4 linked regions of the Homo sapiens genome follow. The protein of the gene in region 1 purifies or fractionates together with the protein of each later gene. This does not show direct contact. Each region holds a gene or a part of one and is shown in the gene's direction. Other genes may lie near its edges.

Region 1 (5,740 bases):
GTTGCAAGGAGGACTTGTTACTATGCACATCACTGGGCCCACTCCCAAGAGTTCTGATTCTGCAGGTCTGGGGTGGGACCTGGGAATTTTCATTTTAAACAATACATGCTGCTGAGCCCTGGACTCTGTTGAGAACCCTGGGTTTAGGCCTTCCTTCTACGTGAACATCTGTATTTGGAGGAGGGGTTGGAGGGAGAGGAGAAGAAGGTGCAGTCAGCTATGGGCACCAGCTGTGAGCCGTGAGCACCAGTTCTGTGGTAGAGCAGGCACACCACTCTGTGCCAGGTCATGTTTACCTTGTTTACCTTGTTTCGCTGTGTCGCCCAGGCTGGAGTGCAGTGGCATAATCTCAGCTCACTGCAACCTCCACTTCCCGAGTACAAGCGATTCTCCTGCCTCAGCCTCCTGAGTAGCTGGGACTACAAGGTGCATGCCACCACACCCAGCTAATTTTCGTAGTTTTAGTAGAGATGGGGTTTCACCATGCTGGCCAGGATGGCCTTGATCTCTTGACCTCAAGTGATCCGCCCGCCTCAGCCTCCCACAGTGCTGGGATTACAGGCGTGAGCCACTGTGCCCTGCTACCTTGTTTGTTTTTTTTGAGACAGGGTCTCACTGCGTCCCCCAGGCTAGAGTGCAGTGGCACAGTCACAGCTCACTGCAGCCTCAAATTCCCCGGTTCAAGTTATCCTGTTGTCTCAGTCTCTGGAGTAGCTGGGACTACAGGTGCATGCCACCATGCCTGGCTAGTTTTTTTTTTTCTTTTTTCTTTTTTTGAGATGGAGTCTTACTGTGTCACCTAGGCCGGAGTGCAGTAGTGGGGTCTAGTCTCTCTGCAACCTCCGTCTCCCGGGTTCAAGTGATTCTCTCCTGCCTCAGCCTCCTGAGTAGCAGGGATTATAGGTGCGCATGCCACCACATTGAGCTAATTTTTGTATTTTTAGTAGAGGTAGGGTTTCACTGTGTTGGCCAGGCTGGTCTCAAACTCCTGACCTGAAGTGATCCGCCTGCCTCAACCTCCCAAACTGCTGGGATTATGGGCGTGAGCCACCACGCCCAGCCTTTATTTTTTATTTTTTTAAAATTTTTAATAGAGATGAGGTCTTGATATGTTGCGCAGGCTGGTCTTAAACTCCAGAGCTCAAGCAATCCTCCTGCCTTGGCCTCTCAAACTGCTGAGATCACAGGCATGAGCCACCATGCCTGCCACACCCCCCCCCCTTTTTTTTTAACAGCTGGAAATGATTTATCCATTAAGTACAGTGATATGGTGCCTAGGACTTATGACATTCTTAGGGGCCCACAAAAGTGTTTCAATTTCTTTAAAATCAGAAGCTGTAGGGCTGGGCACGGTGGCTCACGCCTGTAATCCCAGCACTTTGGGAGGCCAATGTGAGCGGATCATGAGGTCAAGAGATTGAGACCATCCTGGCCAACATGGTGAAACCCTGTCTCCATTAAAAATACAAAAATTAGCTGGGCATGGTGGCACACGCCTCTAGTCCCAGCTACTCGGGAGGCTGAGGCAGGAGAATTGCTTGAACCAGGAGATGGAGGTTGCAGTGAGCTGAGATCGTGCCACTGCACTCCAGCCTGGGTAACAGAGTGAGACTCCCTCTCAAAAAAAAAAAAAAAAAAAATCAGAAGCTGCAGAGGATAAGTAAACAAATGGGTCAGGCAACGTTCCTCTAAAACTTGATTTAGGAAAACAGGTGGTATGCTGGATTTGACCCCTGGGCCTTAAGAGTGATAAGGGTGTATCCGGAAGCTAATAGTAGTTGTTTTCAGGGGGACTCTGAGGTTATGTTTTCTTTGCTTATTCCAGGTAGCTTTAAAAAGAAAAGAAAGTTCACCCATAATCCTGTCCCATACAGAAATTTATATAAAGCTGTGGATCTCGCGTGTTTGCAGAGCGCTCTAGTCTGTGGAGAGTATTTTGTGCTTAAGGTGCTGGGAATAGCAATGAGGCTAGGAAAAGCTGAGGCTCAGACTGTCCTCACCCAGCAGCAGGTGCAGCCTGGCTCTTTCTGCGCACTCATCTATTCCTCCGCTTATCCTGGGAAGTAAATGCTGTCATCATCACCCCTGTTTCATCTTCCCCTAAGCCCTTGGCAGCTGAGGGACCGTACACTCCACTCATTGATATTTTTTTTGTTTGTTTTTGAGATGAAGTTTTGGTCTTGTTGCCCAGGTTGGAGTGCAGTGGTACGATCTCGGCTCACTGCAACCTCTGCCTCCTGGTTTCGAGTGATTCTTCTGCCTCAGCCTCCCGAGTAGTTGGGATTACAGGCATGTGCCACCACACCCGGCTAATTTGGTATTTTTAGTAGAGATGGGCTTTCTCCATGTTGGTCAGGCTGGTCTCGAACTCCCAACCTCAGGTGATCCATCCACCTCGGCCTCCCAAAGTTCTGGGATTACAGGCATGAGCCACCCCACCCGGCCATAAAGGGTGTTGGATGAATGAACATACCCCCATTTTATAGATGAGGAAACTGAAGTAAGACACATTGATCCACTTGCCTGTGGTCATGTGGCTGGTGAGGGCCAGCCCCTGGATCAAGGGGTGGCTCTGGTGCTGCCCTCTTGACCCCTCTCCTTCCCTGGCACTGTCCTCACACCACTCTGCTGGCATCCTTGCCTGTGGTGTGGCCTCTGTCAGCCATCTCCATCGTGTGACTGTGGCATCATGACTGTAGTACTTAGCACAGTGCAGCGGGCTCTTTGGGGGCGAATGAGGTGACATACGAAGCACCATGCCTGGTTTGGAGGAAGAGGCAAACCTTTGTCATTGCCACTGTCACTGGTCAGTGGTGTCTTTGAGTCCTGAGCAGATGTAATTCCTTGGGTGGGGACTCAGCACAGAGTGAAGAGCTTGGGGTGAAGACCAGCCTTCCTGGGCTCCCCAGCTCTGCCATTTCCTGGCTCTGCACTGGAATCTCACCCTCTACCAAACGGGAGAAACTCCCACGAGAGGCAGCTGGCGCAGCAGGCCAGAGCTTGTTTTTGTCTTGGAGGGGGACTTAGGTTTGAATCCCAGCTCTCCCCCTGCAGCCTGTTTTCCTGTTTCTTCTCCCCCCAGGATGGAGTGTGGTGTTGTGGTCATAGCTCACTGCAGCCTCCACCTCCTCCTGGGATGGGTCGCCGGCACTGGTCAAGATAGTTCCTAGTTTCAAGGCCAGGGTACATTGCCCAGGGTCAGGCCAGTGCTGTCTCAGGATATGGGAGTGCAGGTTCGGGGCCGCACTGACTGAGTTTACACCCTGACTGCTGCCTTCTCTCTGTGTGCCCTTGGGGAGGATACTGCAGCCCTCTGCCTCAGTTTCCTCCTGTGACCTTTGGGTTAAGAACCATGGTGTGCAGTTGTTGGGAGCATCCTACGGCTGGCTCCTGTGAAGCACTTGGGGCTTCCTGGGCAGGACCTGGTGGCCCAGGGAGTGTCCACGGCTGGGCCAGCAAGCAGGCACCAGGAGGGAGGCAAAGGCCCTGACCGCCTCTCTCTCCCTGTTCCTTTGCAGTTTCTCCACAGTCGAACTCCTCTAGGCCCACCTGTGCCCGTCACCTCACCTTGGGCACGGGAGACGGGGGCCCTGCCCCACCCCCTGCCCCCTCCTCTGCATCCTCCTCCCCTTCCCCTTCTCCCTCATCTTCCTCCCCTTCCCCTCCCCCACCCCCACCGCCCCCTGCACCCCCAGCCCCACCTGCCCCCCGATTCGATATCTATGACCCCTTCCACCCCACCGACGAGGCCTACTCTCCACCGCCTGCTCCGGAGCAAAAGTACGACCCTTTTGAGCCCACCGGCTCCAACCCCAGCTCATCAGCGGGGACCCCCTCACCTGAGGAGGAAGAGGAGGAGGAAGAGGAAGAAGAAGAGGAAGAGGAAGACGAGGAGGAGGAGGAAGGCCTGTCCCAGAGCATCAGCCGCATCTCGGAGACCCTGGCGGGCATCTACGATGACAACAGCCTGAGCCAGGACTTCCCAGGTGACGAGAGCCCCCGCCCGGACGCGCAGCCCACACAGCCGACTCCCGCCCCTGGAACGCCGCCCCAGGTGGACTCCACCCGGGCTGATGGAGCCATGCGCCGGCGGGTCTTCGTGGTGGGGACCGAGGCAGAGGCTTGTCGGGAAGGCAAGGTCTCGGTGGAGGTGGTGACCGCTGGTGGAGCCGCCCTCCCGCCGCCCCTGCTGCCGCCCGGCGACTCGGAGATCGAGGAAGGGGAGATCGTCCAGCCGGAGGAGGAGCCCAGGCTGGCGCTGTCCCTCTTCCGCCCCGGCGGCCGGGCCGCCCGGCCTACACCGGCCGCCTCGGCCACCCCCACGGCCCAGCCCCTTCCTCAGCCTCCCGCTCCGCGGGCCCCCGAGGGGGACGACTTCTTGTCCCTGCATGCGGAGTCGGACGGCGAGGGCGCCCTGCAGGTGGACCTAGGGGAGCCGGCTCCCGCGCCGCCCGCCGCCGACTCGCGCTGGGGCGGCCTGGACCTGCGCCGCAAGATCCTGACCCAACGGCGGGAGCGCTACCGCCAGCGCTCGCCCTCCCCGGCGCCCGCGCCCGCCCCGGCCGCCGCTGCTGGTCCGCCCACGCGCAAGAAGTCCAGGCGGGAACGCAAGCGCAGCGGCGAGGCCAAGGAGGCCGCCTCGTCCTCGTCGGGCACCCAGCCAGCGCCGCCCGCCCCGGCCTCGCCCTGGGACTCCAAGAAGCACCGCTCGCGGGACCGCAAGCCCGGCTCCCACGCCTCGTCGTCCGCCCGCCGCCGCTCCCGCTCCCGCTCCCGCTCCCGCTCCACCCGCCGCCGCTCGCGCAGCACCGACCGCCGCCGCGGGGGCAGCCGCAGGTCGCGGTCCCGGGAGAAGCGGCGACGGCGGCGGCGCTCCGCCTCCCCGCCCCCGGCCACTTCCTCATCGTCGTCCTCGAGGCGCGAGCGGCACCGCGGGAAACACCGGGACGGTGGCGGCAGCAAGAAGAAGAAGAAGCGGTCGCGGTCCCGGGGTGAGAAGCGGTCTGGGGATGGCAGCGAGAAGGCCCCGGCGCCCGCCCCGCCGCCCTCTGGCTCCACCTCGTGTGGTGACCGCGACAGCCGCCGCCGGGGGGCCGTGCCACCCTCCATCCAGGACCTCACGGACCACGACCTCTTCGCCATCAAGCGGACCATCACGGTGGGCCGGCTTGACAAGTCCGACCCCCGAGGACCCTCTCCTGCTCCGGCCTCCTCACCTAAGCGGGAGGTCCTGTACGACTCCGAGGGACTGAGCGGCGAGGAGCGGGGCGGCAAGAGCAGCCAGAAGGATCGGCGCCGCTCGGGGGCCGCCTCCTCCTCCTCCTCTTCCCGGGAGAAGGGGTCTCGTCGGAAGGCGCTGGACGGGGGTGACCGGGATCGGGACAGGGACAGAGATAGGGACAGGGACAGGTCATCCAAGAAGGCCCGGCCCCCCAAGGAGTCGGCGCCTTCCTCAGGGCCCCCGCCAAAGCCACCAGTCAGCAGCGGCTCAGGCTCTTCATCCTCGTCGTCCTCCTGTTCTTCCCGGAAGGTGAAGCTGCAGTCCAAGGTGGCGGTGCTGATCCGCGAGGGTGTCAGCAGCACCACCCCGGCCAAGGATGCCGCGTCAGCCGGCCTGGGCTCCATTGGCGTCAAATTCAGCCGTGACCGCGAGAGTCGCTCCCCCTTCCTCAAACCTGACGAGCGGGCCCCCACTGAGATGGCCAAAGCAGCTCCGGGCAGCACCAAGCCCAAAAAGACC
Region 2 (3,134 bases), on another chromosome or scaffold:
TTGAGTAGATTAATAATGAAAATACTTTGGAAATAATATACATTTTGACATTCTACCAAGAGGACAACTTTGGTTCTGGAACTGGTTTCTATTTGTCAAATCAGTTTCCTTTTAACATAATTAATCCCTTTAACAAAAAGCCGTCTATGGGATTAAAAGACACGTGAAATGATACTTTTATTATTCCCTTGCTCATATAACTTTAAAAATAATACTTTTAGCTCTAATAGCTCAAGAACACAATATTCGTTAATGTTCAGTAAAGTAGCCTGAGACATTTTCAATGTTTCCTTAAGGTTTTTGAATGACTGTATATTTGGCAGTTAAGCAGTGCCACACTACAGGGTAGATATGGTAAATTTTATATTTGTATATTTACAGTTACAAAACAAATGTACTTTTACCTTTTATTTCTGACCCTGTGTGTTAGAGCAGTTGCATGCTCTCCTGCTGTTAAAAACACATTGTTAAGCTGTGGATTTGTACTCAATAATGACTTAGGATAAACATTTATTTTCATTCATTGCTTTACATACTAGACATTTTTCTTCTCTTTGTAAGTAGATTCAAATTAGATAGTCAATAAAACATCTTGAAAATCCCACAAGCCAATTATGTCTCTCTAGTCTGAATGGCTTCATTGTTTCTTTCTCAGTATTAGAAATTATAGTTACAATGAATTGCATATGAAGAAGGCAGACATTTATTTTTAATAGCCAAGTAGTTCTGCAAATAGTTCTTTTAACAATTTGACCTCTCTCCAAAACAGAGACACATATAAGTAGTGCTCATCCATGCACTACTAATAATACATGGCTTATTCCAAAGTTTTTAGTCAACTTTTGGGACTTGGGGTGCATTTTCTCACAGAAAGAATAGTAGTTAGGTTCCCTAACACTACCGCTGATAGCTCACCTGGGAACTGAATCCACCTAACCATGAATGTCCTTCACTTGTAACGTGGTTCACAGGTTACTAATCATAGATCCTGACCAGCATTTGTAACACTGCTCTAACTAGGACACAGCATGCAGCAGCCACACTCACACCCTGGGATGTCTGTGTACCTCTGTCCCTAGGTGTAGGAAATGGAAGAAAAAGATTCAGCCAAGTGGGGAGGTGACAGATGCACAATTATGAAACCTGGTTGTACATGTTATGAAAGTATACTAAGTAAGTTAGTTTTTATTATTAATGTGAAAGCAAAAACTTGTATGTTAACTTATTTTCAATATCTTGACCTTATTTATGATCTGCTAAAGTGGTGATTTATCCATTCAAAATATATATTTTTTTCCATTTAAAACTAATTTATAAACTATGTACTCCTGGGAAGATTTGAAATCTTTTAGAAGTTTGTTGAAATATTTTCACCATTTCAGACAGACTTCTGACTTAGATACTGATTTTAATGCCAGTATCTGCTCTAAATATTTATGATAAAAATGCATTATTTTTTTAAAGAGCTTGATGAGATTTGTGATAAGTGATAGTACTCAAAAACCTGAATCCCACCCCTCGACCAATCCTCCACAAACTTCAGTTGTTGGTTAACGTATTAACTGAACACAGACAATACAGTCTGATTTAGAAGTCATCTTTTCAGCCGTGTGATAATTAACATGGTAAGCCTTAGCAGCAAACATTCTTCCTAAAAGGAAGACTTCATTTTCTCAAGAAATGGGATTAGTTGGGGGTATTATAATACCAAATTGTAAATCATGAGCGTTTTCTCCACTGTGCACCTGAGGCAGATCATGCATCTTTGAGTGCAGTTTGGTCTGACCCCTCAAGAGAAAAGCATGGTGCCGTAGGGCTGCTATGGTTTGAATGGATGCCATCACTCTTTTCTCCACATACAGTGCAGAGAGCTGTCTGGAGTCACAATCTGAACAGATTCTCGGGCGCTCCTTCTCTCCTTCCATCACTACAGTAAGTAAAAGGACCATAGAGGGGAACCAGGAATCTGAGAATCAGCTGTGCTCAATAGCCAACCTCCCTGTCCAGATGCAGCTATTTTGGTATCTCCTATCACATGCACTCTGAATCAGGGTTTTTCTATAAGAAATCTTTCAGAATCAGCAAAAGTGGGGATGACCCAGGCATCTTGATTTGCAAAATCACAAAACTAAGTTGTCAGTTATCACTGTAGATGAGCAACTCATCTTTTTAAAGTATAGTTACTGAACTGATTCTGAGAAATCTTTAGAGAGAAAAAACTCAACAGTACAAATTAACTAATTGGGAAAGTTAGAATGTCCTTTCTGAATTTTTCATTAAAAAAATTACATTATCTGAAATAACATAAAGCTACTAAACTGCTTTGTATTCTATTAAGAAATAGCTCCTAAGGATGTAGTCTTGTTTCATAGTTGTTGCACTATATCAAAACTTAAAATGTAAGCCCAGTTCTTCTCTGTATAGAAAGGAAACATTGTGTTACTTAATGAATTATTTATACAGAGCATTTGTTGCCAACTGTTGTTCCAGCCATCCACACAGGAGTCTGTTCTGAGGTGGCAATAGCACATGGGAAGATGAACTTTCCCTGTTTGTTTACCCGTTCTTCTTTGGCTGTATCTGATGACAGTATAAGATGTTCTTAATAAAGTTTTATGTTCTTTTTGAAATGTGTAGGTTGTTTTGTGAATCTGATTCATTGGATATGGGGTGGGAAGGGGAAAGATTAATGGACTGGGAGGGAAGCAAAGTACTGGAAATAATTCTGATGTTATGGTAGAGAGACTGCTGAAGGAGGAGATTTACTTGGCCAGTAGTTCCCAAACTTGAGCGAGCATCAGAATTACCTAGAGCCAGTTTGTCCAACCTGTGAGCTGCACGTGACCCAGGACGGCTTTGAGTGTGGTGCAACACAAATTTGTAAACTAAAACATTATGAGATTTTTTTTTTAGCTCATTAGCTATCATTAGTGTATTTTATGTGCAGCCCAAGACAATTCTTCTTCAGGGTGGCCCAGGGAAGTCAGAAGATTGGACATCCCTGACCTAGAGGATTTATAAACTACAGATAGTTGGGCCCCACTCCCAGAGCTTCTGATTCAGTAGGTCTGGGGTAAGGCCTGATGGTTTACAGTTCAAACAACTTGATGCTGATGCCACTGGGGTTAGGGACC
Region 3 (4,016 bases), on another chromosome or scaffold:
GGCAAGAGAAAGCAATAAAGCATATTCAAATAGGAAGAGAGGAAGTCAAATTGTCTCTGTTTGCAGATGACATGATTGTATATTTAGAAAACCCCATCGTCTCATCCCAAAATCTCCTTAAGCTGATAAGCAACTTCAGCAAAGTCTCAGGATACAAAATCGGTGTGCAAAAATCACAAGCATTCCTATATACCAATAATAGACAAAGAGCCAAATCATGAGTGAACTCCCATTCACAATTGCTACTAAGAAAATAAAATACAAAGCACTGCTCAAGGAAATAAGAGAGGACACAAACAAATGGAAAAACATTCCATGCTCATGGATAGGAAGAATCAATATCATGACAATGGCCTTGTTGCCCAAACTGATTTATAGATTCAATGCTATCCCCATCAAGCTACCACTAACTTTCTTCACAGAATTGGAAAAAACTACTTTAAGATTCATATGGAACCAAAAAAGAGCCCACCTAGCCAAGACAATCCTGGGCAAGAAGAACAAAGCTGGAGGCATCACACTACCTGACTTCAAACTTTACTACAAGCCTACAGTAACCAAAACAGCATGGCACTGGTACAAAAACAGATATGCAGACGAATGGAACAGAATGGAGGCCTCAGAAATAACACCACACGTCTACCACCATCTGATCTTTGACAAACCTGACACACACAAGCAATGGGGAAAAGATTCCCTATTTAATAAATGGTGTTGGGAAAACGGGCTAGCCATATGCAGAAAACTGTAACTGGACCCTTTCCTTACACCTTATACAAAAATCAACTCAAGATGGAACAAAGACTTAAACGTAAGACCTAGGACCATAAAAATCCTAGAAGAAAACCTGGGCAATACCATTCAGGACATAGGCATGGGCAAAGACTTCATGTCTAAAACACCAAAAGCAATGGCAACAAAAGCCAAAATTGACAAATGGGTTCTAATTAAAGAGCTTCTGCACAGCAAAATAAACTATCATCAGAGTGAACAGGCAACCTACAGAATGGGAGAACATTTTTGCAATATATCCATCTGACAAAGGGCTAATATCCAGAATCTACAAAGAACTTAAACAAATTTACAAGAAAAAAGCAAACAACCCCATCAAAAAATGGGCAAAGGATATGAACAGATACTTCTCAAAAGAAGACATTTATGCAGCCAACAGACATATGAAAAAATGCTCATCATCACTAGTCATTAGAGAAATGAAAATCAAAACCACAGTGAGATACCATCTCATGCCAGTTAGAATGGCGATCATTAAAAATCAGGAAACAATAGATGCTGGAGAGGTTGTGGAAAAATTGGAACGCTTTTACACTGTTGGTGGGAGTGCAAATTAGTCCGACCATTGTGGAAGTCAGTGTGACGACTCCTCAAGGATCTAGAACTGGAAATACCATTTGACCCAGCAATCCCACTATTGGGCATATACCCAAAAGATTATAAATCATTCTACAATAAAGACACATGCACACGTATGTTTATTGCTGCACTATTCACAATAGCAAAGATTTGAAACCAACCCAAATGCCCGTCAATGATAGACTGGATTAAGAAAATGTGGCACATGTATACCATGGAATACTATGCAGCCATAAAAAAGGATGAGTTCATGTCCTTTGCAGGGACATGGATAAAGCCGGAAACCATCATTCTCAGCAAACTATCACAAGATCAGAAAACCAAACAACGCATGTTCTCACTCATAAGTGGGAGTTAAACAATGAGAACACATGGACACAGGGAGGGTAACATCACACACCAGGGCCTGTGGGGGGTGGGGGGCTAAGGGAGGGATAACATTAGGAGAAATACCTAATGTAGGTGACAGGTTGGTGGGTGCAGCAAACCACCATGGCATGTGTATACCTATGTAACAAAACTACATGTTCTGCACATGTAACCCAGAACTTAAAGTATAATAAAAAAAATAATTATTAAATTTTAAAAAACTAGCCAGGCATGGTGCTGCACACCTGTAGTCCCAGCTACTTGAGAGGCTACATTGGGAGGATTGCCTGAGCTTGGGAGGTTGAGGCTGCAGTTAGCTGTGACTGTGCCAGTGCACTCCAGCCTGGGCAACAGAGCAAGACCCTGTCTCAAAAAAAGAAAAAGAAAAATTCAGAGAGATTAAAGAAGGTATCAAGAAATGTAGACACAATCCATGTTCATGAATTGGAAGATCAAATGTTGTTAAGATAGCAGTTCTCCCCAAATTAATCTACAATGCAATCCCTATCAAAATCACAGCAGGCTTTTTTGAAAAATTGACAAGCCAATCTTAAAATCTGTATGAAAACATAAAGGATTCAGAATAGCCAAAATAATTCTGAAAATGAAGAAATAATTCTGATCCAGAACTTACTACAAAGCTACATTAATCAAGACAGTGTGGTACTGATATAAAGATAGGCATACAGATCAGTGGAACAGAGTCCAGGAATAAACCTTCACATTTATGATCAATTAAGTTTTGACAAAAATCCCAATGAAATTATGGAGAAAAGATGGTCTTTTCAACAAATAGTGCTAGGATATTTGGATATCAAATGCAGAAGAAATTAATTTAGATTCTTACCTCCTACCATATGCAAAAATAAACTCAAAATTGATCACACACCTACATGTAAGAGCTAAAACTATAAAACATGTAGAAGAAAACATGGGAGAAAACCTAGATGACCTTGGTTTAGGAAGAATTCTTAAGACACTAATAGCACAATTCATAAAAGAAAATATTAATAAATTGGACTTCATTAAAATATAAAATTTTGTTTCAAAAAACTATTAAGAAAATTAATTGGCCCGGGGAGGTGGTTCACATCTGAAATCCCTGCACTTTCGGAAGCCAAGGAGGGTGGACCACTTGAGCTCAGGAATTTGAGACCAGACTGGACAACAGAGCAAAATGCCATCTCCACAAAAAATACAAAAATTAACCAGGCATGGTGGCGTGCTCCTGTAGTCCTGGCTACTCAGAAGGCTGAGGTGGGAGGATCTCTTGACCCTGGGAGGCAGAGGTTGCAGTGAGCCAAGATCACACCACCGCACTAGAGCCTGGGTGACAGAGTGAGACCCTGTCTCAAAAAAAAAAAAAAAAAAAAAAATTAATTGAAAAATCACAGACTGGGAGAAAATATTTTCAAACCATAATAAGTATCTGATAGAGGACTTGTATCTAGACTATGTAAAGAATTCTTAAAACTCAAAAATAAGGCAGACAACTTAAAAATGGACAAAATGTTTGAATAGATATTTCAGCAAAGATATACAAATTGCTTAGCATATGAAGAGATGTGTACTATCACTAGTCATTAGGAAAATACAAGTTAAAAGCAAAATTAGATACCATTTTGGACCCACTAAAATGACTATAATAAAAAAGACAGACAAAGATATGTGTTGGTGATGATGTGGAGAAACTGGAGCCCTAATGCATTGCTGGTGGGAATGTAAAATGGTGCAGCCACTTTGGAAAACAGTTTGGCAGTTTCTTAAAAAGATAAACATAAGTTTACCATATGATCCTGCTATTCCATGAGAAGAGAAGTGGAAATGTGTTCACATCAAGACTCGTAGGCAAATGTTCATAGCATTATCATTCATATTAGTCAAAAAGTGGAAACCAAATGACCATCAACTACTGGATTTTTTTTTTTTTTTTAAGAGATGAGGCCTCACTATGTTGCATACTCTGAAGTCAAACTCCTGGGCTCAAACAATCCTCCTGCCTCAGCCTCCTCAGTAACTGGGACTGCAGGCAGGCACCAACATACCCAGATTATTTCTTTTTCTTTTTTTTTTTAACTGGTGGATTTCTTTAAATGATATATGTATACAATGGAGTAGTGATATAGGCTACAATATGGATGCATCTCAAAACATTATGCTTAGTGAAAGAAGTCTGATGCAATATCCCACATATGGTATGTTTCCATTTACAGTCCAGAAAAGGCATATACTAAATTAGCAGTTGCATGGGTCTGATGTGAAAACATGGATTGCCT
Region 4 (4,016 bases), on another chromosome or scaffold:
CTAAGACTCGGAAATTAAGTTGCTTAAGGTTACTCAGTAAAATGGTGGGGTTAGGGTTTGACTTCATCATTAACTTTGTAAAATAATGTTTAACGTTCTTGGTATACCAGTGATATATTGCAAACAGTTCTAATGTGAGTGAGAGAACCTCTTCTCCACCCTATTTTAAAACATTTTTACTGACCTATGCAAGCATTTTACATTTCCTCACCTTGGGCTCTGGGGCTTTAACTGTATGGTTACATCATTTGCAAGAATAAGTTGGTCCCTGTCCCGTCTCTGCTGTGTGGGATCACAAGCGACAATTACAGTTTTTTTTCTAGTCAGCAATAATGAGATAAAATGAAGCCAGAATTTTTTACCTCAGCTGTTGTTGCTATTGTGCCTGAGCTTATTTCCTTTATTGATATCTTAAGAGTGAAAAAATGAATGCTCCAGGAGGGCAGTGTGTCAGTTGAAGTGCATTGTGTATAGTTTATATAGTTAAGTGCTTTTGGCTAAATATGATGTTGTTTTTCTAGTGGAATGGAATTTAACTTTCTAAAATGATTAAGGGTAATTTTAGTCGTTTTGTATTTACATTTAATGAACTTCACTGGTCTCATTGTAAATAAAGCGTTTTGAGAGAAATATTCAGCAGAATGGTGTGGGGCGCAATGAAAACAGTTTATGCATGGGCCTTGTTTTCATTTAAGTTCTTATTTCTTTACAGTTATACTTAGTTTACTCTGAGTTTGGTTTCTAAGTCAGCTTTAGGAAAAATTGTGAAGCAGGTATCTTTGGACTCTGAGTTTGGTTTCTAAGTCAGCTTTAGGAAAAATTGTGAAGCAGGTATCTTTGGCATTCCCAGCCTTTCTGTCCATTTTCCTGATGCCACTTTGCTTCTCTTTTTTCTTCTGACATCCGTTATTTAGTAATTTATATTTATATTTAGACCTCAGTATAAATTTAAGTAACTATTAGATTCCAGAGATATTTTAATTTTATCCTTTATTTCAGTGTGTAATGAGACTTTTGTTCATATAAAAGGAAATAATTTAGAGAAATAGGCTATCTAAGGATATGTTCCAGAGATATTTTTATTTTATCCTTCTTTACTTTTTTTTTTTTGAGATGGAGTCTCGCTCTGTCGTCCAGACTGGAGTGCAGTGGCGCGATCTCAGCTCACTGCAACCTCCACCTCCAGGGTTCAAGCAATTCTCCTGCCTCAGCCTCCCAAGTAGCTGGGATTACAGGCACGCACCACCACGTCCAGCTAATTTTTGTATTTTTAGTAGAGACAGGGTTTTACCATGTTGGCCAGGGTGGTCTCGAACTCCTGACCTCAGACCATCATTTTCTAAGGTGATCTTTCTGTAGCATAAACAAATGTCATTCCTCTGCTTTAAAACCCTGCAGTGATATCCCATTGCAACAAGTTGAAGGTCTGAATTTCTTTTACATTGATCTGTAAGTCCTGTACCATCTGCTCTGCCTACCTCGGGCTTCTTCACATCCTGCCTCCTTCTCATTGTTTAGATCAAATCTCAACTATTACCTCCTCAGAAAGACCTACTTTGATCACCTTATTTCTTGTTTTTTTTTTTTTTTTTTTAATACGGAGTCTTAATAGATTTTTTTAAATTACATGTATCTGTTTTTTATTTATTTTAAATTAATTTAATTTAATTTAATTTTTTTGAGATGGAATTTCGCTTTGTCGTCCAGTCTGGAGTGCGGTGGCGTGATCTCAGCTCACTGCAACCTCTTCCTCCCAGGTCAAAGTGATTCTCTTGCCTCAGCCTCCTGAGTAGCTGGGATTACAGGCGTGCACCACTAAGCCCAGCTAATTTTTTTTTTTTTTTTTTTTTGAGACAGAGTTTCACTCTTTTCACCCATGCTGGAGTATAATGGCACGATCTCAGCTCACTGCAACCTCCGCCTCCCAGGTTCAAGTGATTCTCCTGCCTCAGCCTCCCAAGTAGCTGGAATTACAGGCATGCGCCACCATGCCTGGCTAATTTTTGTATTTTTAGTAGACGCAGGGTTTCACCATGTTGGCCAGGCTGGTCTTGAACTCTGGACCTCAGGTGATCCACCTGCCTCTCAGCCTCCCAAAGTGCTGGGATTACAGGTGTGAGCCGCCGCACCCGGTACCTGGCTAATTTTTGTATTTTTTGTAGAGACAGGGTTTCACCATGTTGGCCAGGCTGGTTTTGAACTCCTGATCTCAGGCGATCTACCCACCTCAGCCTCCCAAAGTGTTGGAATTACAGGCGTGAGCCACTGCACCCGGCTTCGCTTTATTTCAAGTAGTGCCTTCAATTGCTGTCACATCATCTTATTTTCAGTATATGATATTACCTTGTTTGTTACACGTTTATTGTCTGGCTTCCCTCCACCAGATGACAAGTTTGTCTTATTTGTTGCCCTGTCCCCAAACAACTAGGATAGTGCTGGCGTACAGTTAGCAATCAGTAAATGTTTGCCAACATAATGTGAAATAGCTAATCAAGAACTTAAGGAACAGAATTGCTTTAATTTCTGTTTATCAGAAGGAAGCATTTATAATTTAGTGAAAGAAATTACAGGTGCAGCAGTTGGAGGCATATGGACTTGATGTGCAATTTGCCCAGATTATCATTTCTGTACTTCGTTCTTCTTTCTCTCTTTTCTGTGGGGAGGTGGGGGAGGGACAGAGTCTGGCTCTGTTGCCCAGGCTGGAGTGCAGGGCATGATCTCCGCTCACTGCAACCTCCGCCTCCTGGGCTCAAGCAATCCTGCCACCTCAGCCTCCTGAGTAGCTGGAACCATGCCACCACACCTGGCTAATTTTTTTTTTTTTTTTTTTTTTTTTTTTTTTTTGAGACGGAGTCTTGCTCTGTCGCCCAGGCTGGAGTGCAGTGGCGCGATCTCGGCTCACTGCAAGCTCCGCCTCCCGGGTTCACGCCATTCTCCTGCCTCAGCCTCCCGAGCAGCTGGGACTACAGGCGCCCGTCACCGCGCCCAGCTAATTTTTTTTTTTTTTTTTTTGTATTTTTAGTAGAGACGGGGTTTCACCGTGGTCTGGATCTCCTGACCTCATGATCCGCCCGCCTCAGCCTCCCAAAGTGCTGGGATTACAGGCGTGAGCCACTGTGCCCGGCCTACACCTGGCTAATTTTTATGTTTTTGTTTTTGTTTTTTTTTGATGCAGAGTCTCACTCTGTCGCCTAGGCTGGAGTACAGTGGCGGAATCTCGGCTCACTGCAACCTCCATCTCCCGGGCTCAAGTGATTTTCATGCCTCCGCTTCCTGAGTAGCTGGGATTACAGGCACATGCCACCACGCCCAACTAATTTTTGTATTTTTTAGTAGAGATGGGGTTTCACCATGTTGGCCAGACTGGTCTCAAACTCCTGACTTCAAGTGATTCGCCCACCTCAGCCTCCCAAAGTGCTGGGATTACAGGCGTGAGCCACCACGCCCGGCCAAATTTTTATGTTTTTTGTAGAGACGAGGTATTGCCATGTTGCCCAGGCTGAACTCTTGGGCTCAAGCTATCTGCCTGCCTTGGTCTCCCAAAGTGGTAGGATTACAGGCGTGAACCACCAGGCCCAGACCTTCTTTCCCATTTTTAATGGTAAAATGGGAATCAATATGGAAAAATATAAAAGAGGCCTGTGTTAACATGTTAACTCCGGTCACTTAATACTGGATGACACTTTGCAAAGTACTTAAACTGTGAACCTCAGTTTTTCATCTATAAGTAGTTCTGTACCTGTAGATGAAAGTTCTACAATCTACAAGTAGAGATAATTCTGTCTGGAATTTACATTCCAGACACTGTCTACAGTGCTGGAAATTACATTCCCAGTTTGTGAGAGACGAATTGGACTAGCCTCTCTGTAGTAAATTAGCATATGCTTTGAAGAACTAGGAGGACAAAATGGAAAATATTGTGTTAATGACATCCATTTTGTCTTTTTTTTTTTTTTTTTTTTGAGACATATTCTTGTTCTGTCACCCAGGCTGGAGTGCAGTGGCATGATCTTGAC

What was found. Proteins that work in one complex are often made in the same cells at the same time.
Region 2: the proteins of SCAF1 (region 1) and RPRD1A purify together in Homo sapiens (affinity purification with mass spectrometry; one large-scale study listed by BioGRID and IntAct). This does not show direct contact.
Region 3: the proteins of SCAF1 (region 1) and RPAP2 purify together in Homo sapiens (affinity purification with mass spectrometry, with the first as the bait; one large-scale study listed by BioGRID). This does not show direct contact.
Region 4: the proteins of SCAF1 (region 1) and RPRD2 purify together in Homo sapiens (affinity purification with mass spectrometry, with the first as the bait; one large-scale study listed by BioGRID). This does not show direct contact.

Annotation. Positions count from the first base shown.
Region 1 is NC_000019.10:49,647,350-49,653,089, forward strand, and holds part of SCAF1 (splicing factor, arginine/serine-rich 19), read left to right. Parts: intron 1-3,518; coding exon 3,519-5,740.
Region 2 is NC_000018.10:35,989,324-35,992,457, reverse strand, and holds the end of RPRD1A (regulation of nuclear pre-mRNA domain-containing protein 1A), read left to right. Parts: 3' UTR 1-2,634; downstream 2,635-3,134. UniProt on the Homo sapiens protein: Interacts with phosphorylated C-terminal heptapeptide repeat domain (CTD) of the largest RNA polymerase II subunit POLR2A, and participates in dephosphorylation of the CTD by RPAP2.
Region 3 is NC_000001.11:92,392,543-92,396,558, forward strand, and holds part of RPAP2 (putative RNA polymerase II subunit B1 CTD phosphatase RPAP2), read left to right. Parts: 3' UTR 1-4,016.
Region 4 is NC_000001.11:150,366,631-150,370,646, forward strand, and holds part of RPRD2 (regulation of nuclear pre-mRNA domain-containing protein 2), read left to right. Parts: intron 1-4,016.